2 linked regions of the Homo sapiens genome follow. The protein of the gene in region 2 purifies or fractionates together with the protein of the main gene of each other region. This does not show direct contact. Each region holds a gene or a part of one and is shown on either strand. Other genes may lie near its edges.

Region 1 (3,747 bases), on a different chromosome or scaffold from region 2:
ACACTGATGCTGTAAGAGTGTATGGCGATGCTTGTGGGAATTTCCCAACAGCACCGTGGAAGGGTTTGGGAGGTTTGAGGTGTTGGAGAACACAGGGATTAGAGTTTGGCAATAACAGTTATTGGAGAGAATCCCTGGATTTCTAGTGTTGAGTGAGTTTCACAGGGACACAAAGCATGATGCAACCACATCACGGAAGGCCTTGAATGGCTGCCCCAGGCATGACTATTTCACCCCATCGGCCAAGGCCATGGGGACAGTGGTGGCGTTTTGGTCCAAGTTTAAGCAGCAAACTGTCTTGGTCAAAGGCAGGCTTTAGGAAAATTAATTTTCCAGCCATGTGAATGAAAGAGACTCTTAGAAAGCTACTGCAATAGGCCAGGCTTAGTCTCCGTTCAGGGTATGAACACTGAGAATGCTGGAAGGAAATCATGGTTACAGGAAATGCGGTTGAATTTTGAGACACACGGGAAAAGAGCGAGCAATACAAGATGCCTCCCATGTTTCAAGCTTAAGTGGCTGGAAGAACAGACTTTGGAGGGAGATTGATGGTTTTGGTGTTTGGCAACCCATGGTTAAAGGTTCATAAGTGGCTGGGCCTAAGGCGGGAGCAGAATAATGACAGGTGAGACAGTGGGCGCGTCCCCTGTTGCCAAGCCAGGAGTTAACTACCTGGGGCTTCCTGGATTGAGGATAATCAAAGAGCAGGCAGGATCCCGGAGAGCAACCCGGTGATTCTAATTTAGCTTCAGATCCCCGGGGTAGGGCTGGAGCTTTCGATTACCATCTGCTGTAAGGTGTGTGTGCAGGTGCGAGTTATGAGTCGCTGGGCAGGGATGCCTTCGGGCCATTCCACAGGCTGAGTTCAGCCATAGCAGGCGTGCTGTCATTCATTTTAGTAACCGGCATAAATGAGGGCACAGTAGGACCCCAGTCAGTCCTGCTAGGTGCCTTCTTGTCTAGAAGAGGCCGCTTTGACTTTCTTTCCTCTTCATCCCTGAGTTGAGGCCGGGCAGGGGTAACCAGCAAGGGGTTCACTTGGGAAGCGGGTTTCATCACCCCTCTGAGCCCAGGTCGAGAATCACAGTTGAGCTCTGGCCAAGAATCTAACTAATTCAGGTGCAAACCCCACCGTCTTTTGCCCGATTTCCTATATTCTGCTGACAGCAGCTCTCTCCTTCCTTTGGCCTGAAATCGCGGGGTGCTTGTGTGAGCTGAGATTAGCCGAGGCTGACCTGCCCCTCCGTGGCTTCCCGCTGGCCTCATCGTTACTTCGTGTGTTCACCGCCGCTCTGAGCAGAGCGGGCCCCTGGGGAAAGGGGTGCGGGCCTGGGTTGCGGAGGCGCAGGAGCCTCGCGGGATTGGGGCGAGCCGTCCCATGGCGGGAAGGCAGGAGGCCGGACTCGGAAGGCTCTCCCAGACTCGGTCCCTCGCTCCAGCCCTTCCCTGCCGGTGCGCGGAGCCGGGGCTCGGGCGGGTAGCGGTCGCGCGCCGGCGCGGGCGGGCGGGGAGAGGAAGGGGCGCGGCCTCTCCGGGGCGGGGCGCGGGGCGGGCGCTGCGAGGGGACCGGAGGCCGCGGCGAGAGCGCGCCCAGCCCCGCCGCGATGCCCGCGCGCCCAGGACGCCTCCTCCCGCTGCTGGCCCGGCCGGCGGCCCTGACTGCGCTGCTGCTGCTGCTGCTGGGCCATGGCGGCGGCGGGCGCTGGGGCGCCCGGGCCCAGGAGGCGGCGGCGGCGGCGGCGGACGGGCCCCCCGCGGCAGACGGCGAGGACGGACAGGACCCGCACAGCAAGCACCTGTACACGGCCGACATGTTCACGCACGGGATCCAGAGCGCCGCGCACTTCGTCATGTTCTTCGCGCCCTGGTAACGCCGCGCAGGCCGGCGCCCTGCCCCGCACTTGGCGCTTCGCGGGGCGTGGGGCGCTTGGGCGCCGCGGGCGGGGGGTCCCGGGGCCACGTGGACGCCGACGGCTCTGGTCTGCGGCGTGCGTGCTACGGGCGCGGGGCTCGGGGCTCAGGGGTGCGGGGTGTAATACTGGGGGCGCGGGGCCGGGAGCGCGGGGACCCTGCGGGTTCGGGGCTCCGGCTGGCGGGGAGCGGGGGGCGCGGGCGCCGCGGCTCGGGGCCGGGAGCCGGGGACTGCAGGGGACCGAGGGCTTGGGGCTCCGGGTCGGGAGGCGTGAGCTCAGCGGGCCGGGCACTGGCGGCTGACGTGGCGCTCGGCGGCCGGGGCGGTGCGGGAGGAGGGGGCGGACCCCTAGGGGACAGCCGGGAAAAGCCCGCCCTGCGCCGCGCTCCTGAATTCAACCGCCTCTTGCACCTCGGCACCGAGGGAGGGGAAGGTGGGGTCGTCGCCCTTTCGGGCAGCCGGGAGTCCAAATGTCACCCCGCGGTCCCTGCCCAGCGCCCCAAACTTCCTGTGCCGGCCGGACGCGCGGCCTGCCCGTGGGCCACGTGCACTCACCAGAGCGGCCTTGCTGCTGCCGCGGCCACCGGGGTCGGCTGGGACAGACTGCGGGCACGTCCCCTTCCAGAGGCTTTAACTGAAAAATAGAACCCAGGAAGGTGTGGTTTCCCACTTTGTGCGTCTTTTGTGGGATAGGAAGGAGTGGTCCGGGCAGAGGAGGGTTGCTGAGCTACCCCGGGAAGACCAAGGTAGTGCGAATTCTGGAACCCCTCCGCCCCCCTGCAGCTCAGGGTGGATGTAATCTCTGAACGGAGCCCACTGGTCCTCAACTCCAGGCTGTCCTGTCACCTCCCTGCTGCTCTCTCGGGTCCAGGTCACTTGTTATGTGTGAGATCGGAAAAGCCCCTCCGTTGAGCAGATGGTCCCTCTTGCTTTGGTTCTCTGGGCGAGGCTTTGGTGTGGGCCTCGCTGCTGACCTGAGAGACCCTACCCTGGCACTCATCCCACGGAAGAGCTTCCTGTCATTCACACAAGCATGTGCACAGCTTTCCTGCCAGTGCCGGGATGCCCCGAGGAAGGGAAGTGACCACAGGCCAGAGCAGAAAGCCATAATTTTAGGACACAAGACCTTTGAGAGGTTGGAATAGCCTGCAGGTTCTTGTTGCAGAACTTGGTATTCTTCCCCAGAGCTCAGTAGAGGCTCACTTGGGAAAGGGATGTAGGGAGGCATAGAGAAAAGGTACCCTAAGAAAAATGGCCAGTTCAGAAATTGTACCTTTCAAACTGGGAGAAACGTTTTTCTCTTAACCTTGTATTCAGGCTATTACTGCGTTTCAGTTCATTTGGAGTTAAATCAACTTTTAGGGCCACTGTGGGTTTATTAACAATGTGTATATGAAGTACATTATGTTTCACATTCCTAAGAACCAACTGACTCGAATTTTTACAACTCCAATGGTTTAGAAATTACTTTGTAACATAAAACAATCAGGCAGTATTAACAGTTTCTCTTTGTTCGGGAGTATTCTCAGCAACTATTTCAATTAAGTGTACTACTTAATTGGAGCCTATTTCAGTGGAATACATCTGTCGATGGGTTTTCTTTTTTCTTTCTTCATTATTTATTTATTTTAGAGATGGGATCTTGCTCTGTTACCCAGCCTGAAACCAGTGGTACGCAGCCGCAGCTCACTGTAGCCTCTAACTCCTGGGCTCAAGTGATTCTCCTGCCTCAGCCTCTGAAGTAGCTGTGACTACAGGCGCAGGTCATCACACCCAGCTTATTTTGTTGTTGTTGTTTTTGTTGTAGTTGGTAGAAACAGGGTCTCGCTATGTTG
Region 2 (3,647 bases):
GACAGGAGAGAGAAAACTGGCAAAAATAGAAGACTGTACGTTACTTAGTATTATACCAGTGTTAATTTCTTGGTTTTAAAAATGTTTTTGGTGGTTACATAAAGTAAGATGTCAACACTGGGGAGATTCTGGGAAGAGTATATGGGAACTCTACATATTTTACAACTTTTCTACAAGTCTAAAATTATTTCAAAATAAAAAGTTAAAAAAAAAACCCAAACAAAAAACCCTCAGTGGGTAGGTTAAATAGCAAAAAAAAAAAAAAAGAAAAAGTCGATTGTAAGATAAAACTGAAGAAATGATCCAGAATATATCCGGAGAAACAAGGAGATAGAAAATATGAGCTCAGAGATGCCTAAGATAGAAAGAGAGGGCTGGACATGCATCCAACTGGAATCCCTGAGGACAGAATAGAAAGAATCAAAGTGGAAGTAAAGAGATAATGACTGGCTGGGCGCGGTTGCTCACACCTGTAATCCCAGCACTTTGGGAGGCTAAGGCAGGCAGATCCCTTGAGCCCAGGAGTTCAAGACCAGCCTGGGCAACATGGCAAAATGTTGTCTCTACTAAAAATACAAAAATTAGCTGGGCATGGTGGTGCATGCCTATAGTCCCAGCTGCTTTGGAGGGTGAGGTGGGAGGATCGCTTGAGCCTGGGAGGAGGAGGAGGTTGCAGTGAGCCAAGATCGCGCCACTGTGCTCCAGCCTAGGTGACAGAGTAAGATCGTGTCTCAAAACAAAACAAAACAAAACAAAATGAAATAATGACTGAAAATTCCAAGGACAAATGAAAGACATGAATACCAACAAGGAGAGGTTAAATAAAAATAAATCCACATTGTAGACACGCTGTAGCAAAACTAAAGAGAAGGCCTAAAAGTGCCCAGAGAGAGACTCAGATTCCTCAGAAAGAAGCATCAGTGACTGACAGCTGACCTTCCAACCAATGGTGGAAGCCAGAACACAGCGGAAAAATACCTTCACAGTGTGGATGGAAGACAACTGTCACCCCAGAATAGTGTTCCTGGCAAAACGAACTTTCAAGAAGAGGACAAAATAAAACATGTTTACAGACAAACAAACAAAAACTGAGAGTTTACAACTACAGATCTATTCTAAAAGAACTTCTAAAAGATGTTTTTTACTTCAGAAAGAAAGAAAATAAGCTTTGGAGGATTTGAGATGCAAGAAAAAAATGACAAGAAATGTGTATTAACATATGGGTAAATCTAAATAAGTACTGTATGTATAAAATAAAGAAATTAAGAAGAAAAATGTCATTTGTGGGTACTGTAAAAAAAAAGAGAAAATAATATAGCTTGTAAGTTTGAGAAGGAGTGGGTGACAAGTAAAAAAATATATATTAAGGGCCTTGAATTACTCAGGAGGTGGGGTTGTGTTAAGTATGCATATGGTAAGATTTCAAGGTAACCTATAAAAGAAAAGAGACAGAATATAACTTACAATCCAGCAGACGGGGAATAAGAGAAAAGAAAAAACAAAGTCAAGGGTAGAGACAAGAATTCAGGACAAATAGAAAGAAGAAAGCCAGAAGTCCAAATATGTCAGTAAATACAAAGGGGCTAAAAATGGCAATTAAAAGATAGAGGTTGTCAGATTGGATAAAAAAAGAAAATCTAGGCATTATGCTGCTTACAAGAGACTCATTTAAGATATAAAGATATGTGAATTTAAAAGCAGAGATAGAAAATAATAATATAAATACTGAACAGAATAAAGGCCTTGGGGGCCTTCAGGCCAGTCTCAACAGCTATAGTAGTCTCAACAGCTATAGTAGTCCCGCATGTGGCTTGCCTGATGCTGGCATAAGGCTGCTGCACCCCACCCTGACTGATCCTCCTAACGCCCCCTCACCTGGCTGGTGATGTCTGAAGGCATAGGCGAGGGGGGCTTGGAGTAGGTGGCGTCCTGGGAGACGAAGCCAGAGTCATGGGAGGAAACGCTGGAGAGGCGAGCGGTGGTGGTGGCTGGCTGCGCCAGGCTGCGGTAGCGACAGGTGGAACTGGGTGAGTATGTTTGGGCACCCCCAGGCCATGGGGCTCCGCCACCCTTGGCACTGCTACTGCTGCTGGGGGCACTAGGGGAGTGAAGGAAGAGGGCACAGCAGCCAGACAGGGAGACAGAGGGGTGTGTGTTTGGGGGAGGTTGACAAACGAGGGTGGGGAAAGAGGTGAGGGGCAAAGGAAGGAAAAGACAATGTCAGACTAGGAGGTCCTGAGACCCAGGTGCTACACAGGAGCTGTGTTCTGGGACGGTGTGGAAGGGGAGGGCCAGAGCAGGGTACCCCCAGCCCCAGTGCTGAGGGGAGCCGTGGTCAGGGAATGCCCAGGGTGAGGCAACCTCTCTGCCTCCTATTCTGCCACTAAGAACAGTTGTCCAGGCTGGGCACAGTGGCTCATGTCTGTAATCCCAGAACTTTGGGAGACCAAGGCGGGTGGATCATTTGAGGACAGGAGTTCAAGACCAGCCTGGAGAACATAGCGAAACCCCATCACCACTAAAAATGCAAAAGTTAGCTGGGCATGGTGGCGCATGCCTGTAATCTCAGCTACTTGGCAGGCTGAGGCACGAGAATCACTTGAACCTGGGAGGCGGAGGTTGCAGTGAGCCAAGATTATGCCACTGCACTCCAGCCTAGGAGAGCAAGGCTCTGTCTTGAAAAAAAAAAAAAGAAACAAGAAACAGTTGTCCTGTCTGGGCGTGGTGGCTCACACCTGTCCCAGCACTTTGGGAGTCTGAGGTGGGTGGATTGCTTGAGTCCAGGAATTTGAGACCAGCCTGGGCAATAGGGTGAGACCCTGTCTCTACAAAATATATGAAAATTAGCCAGGCGTGGTGGTGCACACCTGTATTCCCAGCTACTTGGGAAGCTGAGGCAGGAGAATCGCTTGAACCCGGGAGGTCGAGGCCACAGTGAGCCATGATTGTGCCACTGCACTCCAGCCTGGGTGACAGAGCGAGACCCTGTCTCACAATGACAACAAAACCCAAAAAACCCACCAAAAAACCTATTGGTTTCACCAAAGATCTTAATCTAGATTCCTATATCCTAAAGAATATATCTTTATCACTGAGGCCTCAGCCTCCCGAGTAGCTGGGACTACAGGCACACACCACCATGCCCGGCTAATTTTTTTGTATTTTTTAGTAAAGACGGGGTTTCACCGTTTTTACCAGGATGGTCTCAATCTCCTGACCTCGTGATCCGCCTGCCTCGGCCTCCCGAACTGCTGGGATTACAGGCGTGAACGACTGCCCCCGGTGAGTCCAATCATTCCTAAACCACCTTCTCAAAATCTGGTATTTGCCATCCAGTCCTAACTGGATGTCTAGCATATGGTGATGGTGTGTGTGCGTACAGAGGTCACCTTCCAAGTGGGTCCTGCACCCACCATCACCCTCACTCTCTCCAATCCCTCAAGGGTGTCCAGCCCTCTATGGCTCACACCCTCAGCACAGCAATTCAACCCTTGGGTGGTGTTCCTGGCTAAGCGTGACCCTGAAGCCTCCCAGCCTCTGCCCCTGCTCATGGCTGTCCCCTGCAATCAGCCCCTTCACTGTGGGACGGCCACCCACGCAGGGTCTGAAGAGCCTCTCTCTGAGGTAGTAGCTGATTGCTGTGCCTG

The links. The genes of interacting proteins can lie anywhere in the genome.
Region 1: the proteins of MTSS2 (region 2) and TXNDC5 purify together in Homo sapiens (affinity purification with mass spectrometry; one large-scale study listed by BioGRID and IntAct). This does not show direct contact.

What each region holds. Positions count from the first base shown.
Region 1 is NC_000006.12:7,908,634-7,912,380, reverse strand, and holds the start of TXNDC5 (thioredoxin domain-containing protein 5 isoform 1 precursor), read left to right. Parts: upstream 1-1,592; 5' UTR 1,593-1,604; coding exon 1,605-1,867; intron 1,868-2,303; exon of another isoform or gene 2,304-2,568; intron 2,569-3,747. UniProt on the Homo sapiens protein: Protein disulfide isomerase of the endoplasmic reticulum lumen involved in the formation of disulfide bonds in proteins. Can reduce insulin disulfide bonds.
Region 2 is NC_000016.10:70,672,431-70,676,077, forward strand, and holds part of MTSS2 (protein MTSS 2), read right to left. Parts: intron 2,099-3,647; coding exon 1,876-2,098; intron 1-1,875. UniProt on the Homo sapiens protein: Involved in plasma membrane dynamics. Potentiated PDGF-mediated formation of membrane ruffles and lamellipodia in fibroblasts, acting via RAC1 activation. May function in actin bundling.